Linked DNA regions of Homo sapiens. The protein of the gene in region 2 interacts with the protein of the main gene of each other region in a pairwise test. Each region holds a gene or a part of one and is shown on either strand. Other genes may lie near its edges.

Region 1 (7,025 bases), on a different chromosome or scaffold from region 2:
TTATAGATGTGCACCACTGTATCCAGCCTAGACAATATTTTACTCTATTATTTTATTTTTTTTTTTTTTGAGTCAGGATCTTGCTCTGTTGCACAGGCTGGAGTACAGTGGCACAGTAACGCGTCACTGCCATCTTGACCTCCCAGGCTCAGTCCATCCTCCCACCTCAGCCTCTCTAGTAGGTGGGACTATAGGCACATGCCGTCACTCCTGGCTGATTTTTTTGTATTTTTTTAATGTGACAGGGGTTTGCCATGTTGCCCAGGCTGGTCTGGAACTCCTGGACTAAGGTGATCTGCCCACCTCGGCCTCCAAAAGTGCTGAGATCACAGGTGTGAGCCACCACGCCCGGCCTGGACAGTATTTTAACTATCACACTCTCATGCTTTCTCATTCTAACATTTTGAAGTATCAACTATGATTTCATCAACCTTTACATTCCGTGGTTTGTATTGTAAAGGTCCCATGTGTAGACTGGATGTTTTCTAAACTAAACTCCCACAGAAATTGTGACATTAAGCCACCATTCCCCACCAGCACTCACATGCCACACTGTATTAAGGAATAGCAGGGGATTTCATTCATTGTGGAGCTGGCCATGTGGGCTGGTTTATGGTTAGGGCATATAGAGAGACAGGGAAGCATATTCCTCTGTTCTGTGAAATGACTTACTGTGTTGGAAGTACATGAGACCACTCCGGGGTTTGAAGCGATGTCTACCAAGGGAAATCATTAGAGACTCAGTGCCCAAAGTTTTTGCTGGGGCAAGAAATGTAGGTACCCTGTGCCTACATTTTTTGCTATAGCACATAGCAAAATTACAGATTCCTAGAAGGAAAGCAGATGTTGAGCATAAACCACATTGTTTATACAGACATTCTTAGCACAGTGAGCCACTCTTAATAGGTTAGTGTGTTGGCACCCTTTGCCAAGTACATACCAGCAGTCCAAATTCTCAGACATTAGCCAAGGTCCAGTCATCAAGCAGGCCTTTTTGAGAGGAATTGTAGGTCCCTATATTAACTTTTTCTGCACACATAACTAGTGAGTGATAGGACTTTTTAGATAGAACCATGCTATTCCCATATTCTTTATAAAACCTGTGTGTTTGGTGCATGCCTATAATACCAAGTTCAAAAATGAATGCGCCTAAACCAGCTCTGCCATTTGTTTTTTTTTAAATTAAATTCTGTTGACACTCAGCTAGCTGGGCACAGTGGCTCATGTAATCCCAGCACTTGGGGAGGCAGAAGGAGGAGGATTGCTTGAGCAGGAGTTCGAGACCAGCCTGGGCAACGTGATGAGACACAAAGGCTAAAATATTAGGTTGTTGTACTATCTGGCCCCATAGAGAAAAAGAGGGCCAACCTCTGTCCCATATGGTAGAACTGGCTTTTCAAATCAGTAGTGAAAAAACGCTTTATTAAAACCGTTTGAAAAATGAAGTTGGATCTCTATGCCAAAATGCCAGTGGGTCAGATAGTTAAACATAAATAGTGAATCTAGAACTATAATAGAGAAAACACAGGAGAATTTTTTTGTTGTTCTGTGTGAGGGAGACCTTTCTGGGTATGGCAGAAAACACCAAATTAGGCAGACAAACAATGAAAAAAATACTCAAAATTTGTATCATAGACAAAAAGAGTTAATTTCCTTAATATAAAAAGAGTAAAAATAAAGCAGATCAACAAACAGGTTAAAAAACTGGCTAAAGAGATAAGAACAGTCTATAAGTAAAGAACACTTAAGTATATGAAATGATACTTAGCACATTTGTATCATTTTAGTTTGTATTTTTTAATACCATTTTCCACCAATTAAACCAGGAGATTCAAAAGTGTTTGATATTAGAGTGTGTTAAAAAGGATGTGTTCTATCTGTGGACAGTAATTTTATAATATTTATCAAAATTCAAAATATATTTACCCTGTGAAGGGGCAACTTTATCCTACCAGTTGATCCTACAGGTATACTTGTACTTGCACAAAATATCTTACATACAAATGTATTCATTAGTGCATTGCTTTTAATAGCATAAGATTTGACCTAAAAGTCCATTAATATAGTACTGGTTTTATAAAATGATACCTATGTGTACTAGATTTCTGTGTAGTCACCAAAATGAGTATGAAGTAGCTCTTTGAACATTAATGTGAGACACTCAATGGAAATTAAATGATTTGTGAGACAGTAAGGTATATAGTGTGTGTATATATATGTCTGTCTGTCTGTCTGTCTATATATATTGTGATATAGTATCTCTGAAAGAGACATTCAGGAAAACCGGGTACAGTGTTTGCCTTTGTGGAGCAAGTATGGGAGAGTGGTGTGGAAGAGAAACATAATATTCGTCATACATATTCTTGTATCTATTGGATTTTGTTTTTTGTTTGTTTGTTTGTCACCCAGTCTGTCACCCAGGCTGGAGTGCAGTGGCGCCATCTCAGCTCACTGCAAGCTCCGCCTCCCGGGTTCACGTCATAGGGCCTGCCTCAGCCTCCCGAGTAGCTGGGACTACAGGTGCCCACCACCACACCCGGCTAATTTTTTTGTATTTTTAGTAGAGATGGGGTTTCACCATGTTAGCCAGGATGGTCTTGATCTCCTGACTTCGTGATCTGCCTGCCTCGGCCTCCCAAAGTGTTGGGATTACAGGCGTGAGCCACTGCGCCCAGCCATCTTTTGGATTTTGTAACATCATATATATATATATATCAATTAGTCCAAAAACTTAATAAGTTTTTTTTTTTTTAATTTTTGGATGAAGACATGGTCTTGTTTTGTCATCCAGGCTGGAATGCAGTGGTGCAATCATAGCTCACTGCAGCCTTGTACTCCTGGGCTAAAGCAATCCTCCCACCTCAGCCTCCCAAAGTGCTGGCATTATAGGCATGAGTGACTGTGCCTGGCTCAAATTTTTAACAGTTATGTAGAAAATCCATAAAATAATAAAAGTATGATTCTCTGTTAGCTAATGGTCAGGTGTGTATAGCACCATAATATTGTTCTCACGAGTTCATCACTCCCTATGCTTAAACATAAACCAAATCTCTCTGGATAGGAAACAAGGTGTGTACCCATTTAGGAACTTTTCCCGTTTATCATAAATGAAGTGTTACACATAGTGTGTGTAAAACCTAAGAAATTCAACTGGAAATGATTTGGAGAAATTGGTGGTAATAGAACACTTCATGTTCTATTGAAGAACATTGTGAAGCCATTATGCCTCATTAATTGCTGCTTACTTTTTTTAGACTTCAAATCTCAACCTGAGCCATCCCCAGTTCTTAGCCAGTTGAGCCAGCGACAACAGCACCAGAGCCAGGCAGTCACTGTTCCTCCTCCTGGTTTGGAGTCCTTTCCTTCCCAGGCAAAACTTCGAGAATCAACACCTGGAGACAGTCCCTCCACTGTGAACAAGCTTTTGCAGCTTCCCAGCACGACCATTGAAAATATCTCTGTGTCTGTCCACCAGCCACAGCCCAAACACATCAAACTTGCTAAGCGGCGGATACCCCCAGCTTCTAAGGTGGGCATTTCATCATGAAGTCACCGTCCTAAAGCTGGAATTATTTTTACATTCAGCTCTAGTGGGATACTAAGTTTTGGAAACTGGGGTACAGTGTTTTTCAAGCACATAGCTTATTGATTGCATAATAAGGATATGGCCATTTCTGAGTGACCAGACTAGTATTAGAGGGAATGGGTTTGTGCTGAGAGCCACAGATCCTTATTTCAAGTACAGATTTGAAGATCTGGCTCAGAGAACTGTTGTTCTTGAGGGTTTTGCTGTATCCCATAGTTGGAGGATGCATGGTTCCTTGACCAGGTGATACTTTCATCATTGGTGAGTCCCCAAAAATAGAGTAGTCAGCTCAGTGTTCACTTCCCACCCACCATCACAACTCCCCCGCATTGCTCTTAGATGCAGGTGGTGATATTAATGCCAACCATTCCTGTTTAACTTTTAATTTCTCCTTTTTTTTTTTAAATGAGACAGGGTCTCGCCGTGTTGTCCAGGCTGGTCTTGAACTCCTGGGTGCAAATGATCCTCCTGTCTTGGCCTCCCAAAGTCCTGGGATTACAGGCATGAGCCACCATGCCCAGCCAACTTTTAATTTTTCTTAGCTTGTTTTTTTTCTTTCTCTTTTTAGAAAAGTCTTAGCCTATTTTCTCCTTGTTTCTCACTCCTTCTTCTTGCCAGTATTGCCTGGGAACCTAAATGCTTGTTTGGCTCTGTTATAGGCCTTTGTGACCTGGAATCTGTGACCTCTGTTCCTGACACGACAGCTTTGCTTTTTCAGATCCCAGCTTCTGCAGTGGAAATGCCTGGTTCAGCAGATGTCACAGGATTAAATGTGCAGTTTGGGGCTCTGGAATTTGGGTCAGAACCTTCTCTCTCTGAATTTGGATCAGCTCCAAGCAGTGAAAATAGTAATCAGATTCCCATCAGCTTGTATTCGAAGTCTTTAAGGTACTGAATTTAGTCCTTTGTTATGAAGCAAAATAGACCCTAAGAGAGATCAACTGGTGGAAAAGAATACATCCTGTGGTAATAGCTATCCTCAGTGTTTATCCAGACCTTCCATCATCTCCATAAGAAACCCCATACCTGTAGCAGACAGTCTCAGTTTCTTCATTGCCCTGCCCCTTAGCAACCAATAATCTGTCTCTGGATTTGCCTACCTGGACATTTCATATAACTGGAATCTTGGAATATGTGGCCTTTTATGTCTGATCTTTCACTTAGTGTAAGTTTTCGAGGTACACCCATGTTTAATGTATCATTTTTATTGCCAAATATTTCATTGTGTTGATAATACCACATTTTATTCATTCATTAGTTGGTGGACATTTGGGTTGTTTGCTCTTTTTGACTATAGTGAATGATGCTGCTATGGACATTTGGTTTCAAGTTTTGCATGCTTTCAGTTCTTTGGGATGTATATCCCAGGAGTAGAGTTGCTGAGTCATATGGTAACTTAACCATTCAGGAAACTCCCATACTGTTTCCACTGTGGCTGTAGCATTTGACATTCCTACCAGTAGTCTATGAGGGATCTAATTTCTCCACATGTTTGCAGCAGTCATTTTCCTTCAGTGGAATATTTTATAAATACAAAATCTCAGATTTTAGTTTTCTTTTCTTTTCTTTTTTTTTTTTTTGAGATAGGGTCTTGCTCTGTTGTCCAGGCTGGAGTGCAGCAGCATGCTTGGCTCGCTGCAACCTCTGCCTCCCAGGCTCAAATGATCCTCCTGCCTCAGACTCCTGAGTATCTGGGATTACAGGCGTGCACCACCATGCCCAGCTAATTTTTAAATATGTTTTGTAGAGACAGGGTTTCGTCATGTTGCCCAGACTGGCCTCAAACTCTGGAGCTCAATGAATCTGCCTGCATCAGCCTCCCAAAGTGCTGGGATTACAGGCATGAGCCACCGGCCTGGCTGACTTTGTTGTTGTTGTTGTTTTAGTTTTTTCACATTCCAGAGGCAAAACCTGATATTTGTTTAAGTTTCCTTTTTAAAGATGGTCTCAAACACCTGGATTCCTTAAAGAATCTTCTTATTTTTTTTCTTTTTTTCTAGACAGAGTCTTGCTCTGTCGCCAGGCTGGAGTGCAGTGGCGCGATCTTGGTTCACTGCAACCTCTGCCTCCCGAGTTCAAGTGATTCTCCTTTCTCAGCCTCCAGAGTGGCTGGGATTACAGGTGCCCACTGCCACGCCCTGCTAATTTTTGTATTTTTAGTAGAGACGGGGTTTCACCATGTTGGCAAGGATGGTCTCGATCTCCTGACCTCCGGATCCGCCCACCTCTGCCTCTCAAAGTGCTGGGATTACAGGCGTGAGCCACCGCACGCAGCCTAAGTATTCTTAAAGATGTCCCCCTATCTCTCAGTTAAATTAGGTGGGTCTCATTTGGGATAATAAATTGATGCAGTAGTTGCATCTCGTGAAGCTGTTTATGTTTTTTTTTTTTTATGAAGCTATTTAAAGTAACAAAATTATGTTGAATATTTTTGACTCTTTTCAGTGAGCCTTTGAATACATCTTTATCAATGACCAGTGCAGTACAGAACTCCACATATACAACTTCCGTCATTACCTCCTGCAGTCTGACAAGCTCATCACTGAATTCTGCTAGTCCAGTAGCAATGTCTTCCTCTTATGACCAGAGTTCTGTGCATAACAGGATCCCATACCAAAGCCCTGTGAGTTCATCAGAGTCAGCTCCAGGAACCATCATGGTAAGTGGTATTTTAGTTTTTTTCTCAGAAGATGTCCGTCTTATTTGGAAATTAATGTTTGGTTAAATTATGCTTCTTGGATATGATTTTATTTTACAAATTGACTAACCTTTTGAGTAGAATCCTTATAGTTCATTGAGTTTGTTTATAGTGGGCATCTCTAGCACCCATGCTCTTGAGTGTGTGGATAGATCTGCAGGTTCATACACTTTGTGGAGAAAACCAAGCATGCGTGTAGTATGAGCACTTTGGCTGTAGTACTGGGTACTTCTACATTGTCTGAAATATCTCTGAATATTTCATGTACTGCTTTCTCTCTGATTGCCCCATTTGCTTTGAATGTATTTGCTTCTTCATCACTGTTAGGTATTTTTGTGTTAAAATTATGTATTTTCTACCTAGTTTTTGTTAATAATACTGGACTATAGATAAAGGAACCAGATCTATTTTTGATATAGTTTTAAAGTTTTACCCTTCTAGATTCTTGCTAACTGCATATCTGATGGTCATTGCCAGTTGTATTGCTTTCTGTTAAGTTGAGATGTACCAATATCTCCTGAGAATCTTAGAAAGAAACTTAAAAAAGAACAAGTATACACATTTCATGTCACACTAGTAATACTTGAACATCATTCTGTCCCAGGAAATTAAAATAATATGGATGACACTACAGGCATACCTTGGAGATACTGCAGGTTGTTTTATACCACTGCAATAAAGAAAGTTGCGCTAATTTTTTGGTTTCCTAGTGCATATAAAAGTTACAATGTGGATATCTTA
Region 2 (7,025 bases):
GCCTCATACCTCGCCTCACTTCCCTCCTACTGTTGTTCTTTACTTTTTCATTCCTCCACACTGTCCTCCTGCTGCCCCTTCCCTATCCCACAAGCCAAGCTGCTTCTCCTCCCACTGCACTGAACAAGGCTGTCCTCCCGCCATCCTAGGTGTCTGAGAGACTCCGGACCCTGCCTGCCACTGTCCCCCTGCTGCTGCAGCACATCCTGAGCACACTGGAGAAGGAGCACGGGCCTGATGTCCTTCCCCAGGCCTTGACTGCCCTAGAAGTCACACGGAGTGGTCAGTGCTTGGGGTGGGTTGGTTGGGAGGCTGAGGGCCAGGGTTCGGATTACATTGGTTCCCTTGGGGTCTCAGCAGGCAGTTCAAGGAGAGACTGGGTGTGGTGGGGGCGGGGACACCGTATGGTTAGATGAGGGCCTCAGAGAGCTTGAGTTTTCAGGTTTGACTGTGGACCAGCTGCACGGAGTGCTGAGTGTGTGGCGGACACTACCGAAGGGGACTAAGAGCTGGGAAGAAGCAGTGGCTGCTGGTAACAGTGGAGACCCCTACCCCATGGGCCCGTTTGCCTGCCTCGTCCAGAGTCTGCGCAGGTACAGGTGCCCCAGCAGAGCTCCCGCTGACCTCTCTGTGCCTTCCCTTCTTTGAGCCGGGGCCCTCTGTATAGCTTCAACAACTGGCTCCCAGACCATGAATGAGCTACTGCTCCAGCTGCTCCAGTTTCCGCTATTTGAGGGGGGAATAGGAGCCCACTGTGTGCCAGGAAGCTCACTGACAGGCCTCTTCCTTCTTCTCTCTCCCTTCCTCACACGAGGACAGTTTGCTAGGGGAGGGCCCTCTGGAGCGCCCTGGTGCCCGGCTGTGCCTCCCTGATGGGCCCCTGAGAACAGCAGCTAAACGTTGCTATGGGAAGAGGCCAGGGCTAGAGGACACGGCACACATCCTCATTGCAGGTGATTGCAGCCCAAGTCAGCCTGGGCACTGAGTGTGGGGCTTGGGCCTGGAGGCCAGGACCACCCACTGTGCTCCCATCTGCTGGCCAGCTCACCTACTGCCCTTGGGAATGATGCAGGGCTGAGCCTTTCTCAATATCTGTTCATGCAGCTCAGCTCTGGAAGACATGTGACGCTGATGCCTCAGGCACCTTCCGAAGTTGCCCTCCTGAGGCTCTGGGAGACCTGCCTTACCACCTGGTTAGTTCCTAGACCCCATAGACACCTTTCCCAAAGTGAGTGCTTTGGTTGCTCTGAGACCCCTCTCCCCGTTACCATCTCCACCATCACCGCCGCCATTACCCCTCCCAAACTCCCTTGACCTCTTTCCTTTCAGTTTTCCTGCCCTTCTTCTTCAAGTCCTTTGTCCCAGCTCAGATCCTATCTCTGTATCCAGGTTCTGAGACTAAACTGTCCCTTCTCACCAGCCCCTTCATATCCCTAATGAATTCAATCTGACCTTCTCAGCTCCAGAGCGGGAACCGTGGACTTCTTTCGAAGTTCCTTACCAACCTCCATGTGGTGGCTGCACACTTGGAATTGGGTCTGGTCTCTCGGCTCTTGGAGGCCCATGCCCTCTATGGTGAGATGAGTCACTGGCTGGGTTCTTCTCTGAGATATGGGACTCCTGGGTGTGCTTATGGGGGCCCTGCTCAGGGTTGGGGCAGGGGTGTGGGTGTCAGGGAAAAAAGATTCAAATTTCCATTTCGAGTTGAAAATGCCAAGAGGGTGAGCACGTGACTCTCAGGAGACCTTTCACCTTGATCTCTTGGACCAGAGATTCTTCAACTTTATTTAGTTAGCATAAAACTATCTAGGAAACTTGTTCAAATTGCAGATCCTTGGGTCTCCATATTCTGGTTTCCTAGGTTTGGAGTGGGGCTCAAAGCTTTGTACTTTTAAGAGATATTCCTGATATAGGGCCAGAGGGCCACACTTTGAGACTTACTATTGTAGACACACCATATGGTTTTATTTGGTGCTGGGGCTAATGGGGTCCAGCTGGCTCCCCAGTGACATTCTGCCACCCTTTTATAGCTTCTTCAGTCCCCAAAGAGGAACAAAAGCTCCCCGAGGCTGACGTTGCAGTGTTTCGCACCTTCCTGAGGCAGCAGGCTTCAATCCTCAGCCAGTACCCCCGGCTCCTGCCCCAGCAGGCAGCCAACCAGCCCCTGGACTCACCTCTTTGCCACCAAGCCTCGCTGCTCTCCCGGAGATGGCACCTCCAACACACACTACGATGGCTTAATAAACCCCGGACCATGAAAAATCAGCAAAGGTAAGACCTTGACCCCAGACCCTAGTAAGCCCACCAGAGAGCAAGCTGCAGCTCTTTCTGAAACTGAGGAATAAGGATGACCAGAAACACTGGAGAGGGATCCAGGCACAGAAGCACATAAATCAACTCCTGTTTGCATTCTCTCGTTTATTTCCTCCCTTTCTTCCTACTCTTTCTCTAGCTCCAGCCTGTCTCTGGCAGTTTCCTCATCCCCTACTGCTGTGGCCTTCTCCACCAATGGGCAAAGAGCAGCTGTGGGCACTGCCAATGGGACAGTTTACCTGTTGGACCTGAGAACTTGGCAGGTATGACAATCAAGGAGGGGCAGAATTTACCCTCTGAAAATCCATGCAGACTGCCCTGAAGCCCTAGATGAGCCAAACACACCTGTTATCACTCTGATTAATTCAGCAACTTTACTGCCTGCACATCAGCTCAAAGGGCTTGGCCAAAAAATCAATCACACAGCAAATATTTGCTGCACACCTTCCATTTAAGGCACTGTGCTAAGCGTTGCAAGAAACACAGGATTTGGGACATTGTCATTGCCCACCAAGTGGTCAGTTTTGTTGGGAGATAAGACATACGAGGTAAAAAAGGAACCAAAACATAGCCATGTAATCTAATTAAGACATGAGTGAGTTGTGCAGCTATAGGAGGACATAGGATAGAGAAGGGCAGGCACTCTTGTTTGAACAAGGAACCTGAGCAAAGACACAGGAGGGGAATGTTCCTGGTAAATTTGTAAATTGCTGGGAATTATGGCAGCACAGCGTGCTTATGGGAGGCTAATAGTACATTAGGCTGGAGAGGTGAGTCCTAGAACCACAGCCTCTTTCTATCCTCTTTACACTCATGTCATCCCCTACCCCATGTAACCCCATTTTCTCAGACCCATCAAAATTTTCTGTAACTTGGGGAATAGGTATGGGGTTTGGAGTAGGGGAGAAAATGTGGCCCCACTTGGATCACGAGGCCCCCACTTGAACGTGTGCTTGACTTGGAACATAGAGAGCCAAGGACTCATGGCCTTTGTGCCTTGGCCTTCTTTTTGGGTGGGGCCTGGAGTGGTGGGACTTGGAGGGTCAAGGGGATGGCCTGAGCTGCGCTCCCTCACCCACTGTCGCAGGAGGAGAAGTCTGTGGTGAGTGGCTGTGATGGAATCTCTGCTTGTTTGTTCCTCTCCGATGATACACTCTTTCTTACTGCCTTCGACGGGCTCCTGGAGCTCTGGGACCTGCAGCATGGTTGTCGGTAAGGGGTCCTCCCCATTTGTCTTGGAATGAGGGCCTTCCCCATTTTTTGGAAGCCCCAGGAGAAGGAAATGAGGAGGGAGCTGATGGCCAGGGTCCAGAGGACTGACTTCATCTTCCTGGGATAGGGTGCTGCAGACTAAGGCTCACCAGTACCAAATCACTGGCTGCTGCCTGAGCCCAGACTGCCGGCTGCTAGCCACCGTGTGCTTGGGAGGATGCCTAAAGGTAAGACTTGGGGTCTGCAGTGGTCAGAGTGGCCCTGAGCCATGACTCACCCTCGTGAATTTGTTCTCTCAGTGCGGCAGAGGCTGCTGACTCCCTGGCCAGAGAAGGCCTTCCCTGCTGAGGGCAGGGTAACTGGACAAGGTTGCTCCTGGAGGTCTGGGACTGAGAAGTTCAGGCATCTCTCTTCAGCATCCTGATTCCTCCTCTCTCTCCCTCAGCTGTGGGACACAGTCCGTGGGCAGCTGGCCTTCCAGCACACCTACCCCAAGTCCCTGAACTGTGTTGCCTTCCACCCAGAGGGGCAGGTAATAGCCACAGGCAGCTGGGCTGGCAGCATCAGCTTCTTCCAGGTGGATGGGCTCAAAGTCACCAAGGTAAGAAGGTCCAGTGTTGCTCTTGGGGGAAGCACAGGAGGACAGGAGTGGAGGGTGGCAGACGACAGACAGCAGCATTCTGGGTCACTTAAGATTTTGCTGAGAGCAGGTCTTCACGTTTCCATTTCTACCTCCCTGTGTAGGACCTGGGGGCACCCGGAGCCTCTATCCGTACCTTGGCCTTCAATGTGCCTGGGGGGGTTGTGGCTGTGGGCCGGCTGGACAGTATGGTGGAGCTGTGGGCCTGGCGAGAAGGGGCACGGCTGGCTGCCTTCCCTGCCCACCATGGCTTTGTTGCTGCTGCGCTTTTCCTGCATGCGGGTTGCCAGTTACTGACGGCTGGAGAGGATGGCAAGGTCAGCTTGCAGAGGGCTGGTGGTGGGTTGTGAGGAGGAGTAGCAAAGGCAAAGAATATCTTGGTGGGGGTGGGGGTCCTTTGTCGAGGAGACTGTGGAGGAGCTTGGATTGCAGGAACCACGGGGAGAGGGGTGCCGCTGTGTGCAGGGGCAGCTCTCATGAGAAGAGTCTCTGGAAGGAGGACTTTAATGGGGGTGGCTGTAACTCAAAACAGGAAGGAGGACCGCGTGGTGGAGGTGGTATCCTTAAGCCCTTTTCTTGGTTCCCAGGTTCAGGTGTGGTCAGGGTCTCTGGGTCGGCCCCGTGGGCACCTGGGTTCCCTTTCTCTCTCTCCTGCCCTCTCTGTGGCACTCAGCCCAGATGGTGATCGGGTGGCTGTTGGATATCGAGCGGATGGCATTAGGATCTACAAAATCTCTTCAGGTACTGAAATGGGAATGGGTGGGTTTTTGAGCCTTTAGAAAGAGCGCAGCCCCTGCCCCCTACCCCTTCCCAAGTGTCTTACTCCCTTGTTCTCTCTCATTCTCTAGGTTCCCAGGGGGCTCAGGGTCAGGCACTGGATGTGGCAGTGTCCGCCCTGGCCTGGCTAAGCCCCAAGGTATTGGTGAGTGGTGCAGAAGATGGGTCCTTGCAGGGCTGGGCACTCAAGGAATGCTCCCTTCAGTCCCTCTGGCTCCTGTCCAGATTCCAGAAGCCTGTGCTAGGACTGGCCACTTCCCAGGAGCTCTTGGCTTCTGCCTCAGGTACTACTAGACAGTGGGCAGGGTTAACAAATTACTGTTCTTTTCTTTTCTTTTTTTTTTTTTTAAGACAGAGCTTCACTCTTGTTGCCCAGGCTAGAGTGCAGTGGTACGGTCTCGGCTCACTGCAACTTCTGCCTCCTGGGTTCAAGCAATTCTCCTGTCTCGGCCTCCCGAGTAGCTGGGATTACAGGCATGCGCCTCCACGCCCGGCTAATTTTATATTTTTAGTAGAGATGGGGTTTCACCATGTTGGTCATGCTGGTCTCGAACTCCTGACCATAGGTGATCCACCCACCTCGGCCTCCCAAAGTGCTGGGATTACAGACGTGAGCCATTGCGCCTGGCCCACAAATCACTGTTCCTTTTAAAGACACTAACACCTTTCTCCAAGTTGTATGTATATGTGTATGAAAATACACATGTGCGATTTTGTTTTACAACTTTCAAAGTGCTTTTGAATGCAATTATCTTGCATAATCTGTTTAGACTGTTTCCACTCATTCCTTCACCTTCATTCTGGGACCTCTAACCTCCCAGTAATCCTTTGAGTTTCTGCCCCGTGGGAGACTTTGCTGTGAAAAGGGATAGGTTTCCCTTAGAAGGAGAGAGAGAGATGTTGAGGTGAAAATGTAGAATGGCCTAGGCCCTCTCTAGGAGGGAGAACTGGTCCTCACAGGTCACGAGGTGGAAGTGACACTGGACACTTGAGAAGAGGAGGGGTCTGGAGCAGCTGCTGTGGGAGTACAGTTAGAGAAGCAGAGACAAGGAACTGTGTTCCCGGCCTGAGCTGTGGAGCTGGAGCTGGGAGTGCCGCACGTTCCCGTCCTATGTACACACTCGCTGATGACCCTTGCCCAGGGCCTCTCCACAGCCTTGTGACTCCCTGCATCCCTCCCATGGAGCTGAGCCTCAGGTGTCACCCTCAGCCCCCATGGCCGCTCCTGTCTTTGGCCTCCCAGGGCCTGTCTGGCTTCCTCTTTCAGGAAGCTGTTCCCTCTCTCTTTTTCCAATGCAGAGGATTTCACAGTGCAGCTGTGGCCAAGGCAGCTGCTGACGCGGCCACACAAGGCAGAAGACTTTCCCTGTGGCACTGAGCTGCGGGGACATGAGGGCCCTGTGAGCTGCTGTAGTTTCAGCACTGATGGAGGCAGCCTGGCCACCGGGGGCCGGGATCGGGTGAGCTGCAGAAGGATGCAACCCTGGGGTCCCATAGCCTCTCTAGTTCCTAGATTTCTTAACAACCCATTTCCCATTGCTTCCTCCTGCTTTTTGTTTTGCCAAATCTAGTATAGATCTGTCTGCCTGTGCTTCCTTGTGCCCCTCTTTCCTTGAAATTTCTTGCCTGAAATGGCTCCGGGGTTCCCATCCTTCCTTTGGTCCTGATTGCTCCCTCTCCTTGGGGCCTATCCAGAGTCTCCTCTGCTGGGACGTGAGGACACCCAAAACCCCTGTTTTGATCCACTCCTTCCCTGCCTGTCACCGTGACTGGGTCACTGGCTGTGCCTGGACCAAAGATAACCTACTGGTGAGTAAAGGGCCAGGGGTGGCACAGAGCCCAGCTGGGTTCCTGGGGCAAGACAACACTCCCCACCTCGTCCTTTTTCTGGCACCCATTAATAATAGTGATAGCTAATATTTGTCAAACTTGATATGTGCCAGGCATTGAACTAAGCTCTTTTCATATATTGCTTCACTTAATCTTTACAACACCCTGTAAAGTAGATACTCCTTTTATCTCTATTTTTCAGACAAGGAAATTGAACTCAGAACATTTCCAAGGTCAATGATGAAGCTGAGCC

What was found.
Region 1: the proteins of TEP1 (region 2) and UBAP2 interact in binary tests that used the Homo sapiens proteins (3 or more experiments, as listed by UniProt).

Annotation. Positions count from the first base shown.
Region 1 is NC_000009.12:33,940,869-33,947,893, reverse strand, and holds part of UBAP2 (ubiquitin-associated protein 2), read left to right. Parts: intron 1-3,254; coding exon 3,255-3,529; intron 3,530-4,304; coding exon 4,305-4,474; intron 4,475-6,031; coding exon 6,032-6,245; intron 6,246-7,025. UniProt on the Homo sapiens protein: Recruits the ubiquitination machinery to RNA polymerase II for polyubiquitination, removal and degradation, when the transcription-coupled nucleotide excision repair (TC-NER) machinery fails to resolve DNA damage. May promote the degradation of ANXA2.
Region 2 is NC_000014.9:20,375,481-20,382,505, reverse strand, and holds part of TEP1 (telomerase protein component 1), read left to right. Parts: intron 1-149; coding exon 150-282; intron 283-442; coding exon 443-593; intron 594-819; coding exon 820-953; intron 954-1,104; coding exon 1,105-1,193; intron 1,194-1,460; coding exon 1,461-1,575; intron 1,576-2,030; coding exon 2,031-2,271; intron 2,272-2,452; coding exon 2,453-2,576; intron 2,577-3,400; coding exon 3,401-3,525; intron 3,526-3,652; coding exon 3,653-3,752; intron 3,753-3,970; coding exon 3,971-4,126; intron 4,127-4,269; coding exon 4,270-4,482; intron 4,483-4,752; coding exon 4,753-4,906; intron 4,907-5,013; coding exon 5,014-5,226; intron 5,227-6,241; coding exon 6,242-6,402; intron 6,403-6,637; coding exon 6,638-6,751; intron 6,752-7,025. UniProt on the Homo sapiens protein: Component of the telomerase ribonucleoprotein complex that is essential for the replication of chromosome termini. Also a component of the ribonucleoprotein vaults particle, a multi-subunit structure involved in nucleo-cytoplasmic transport.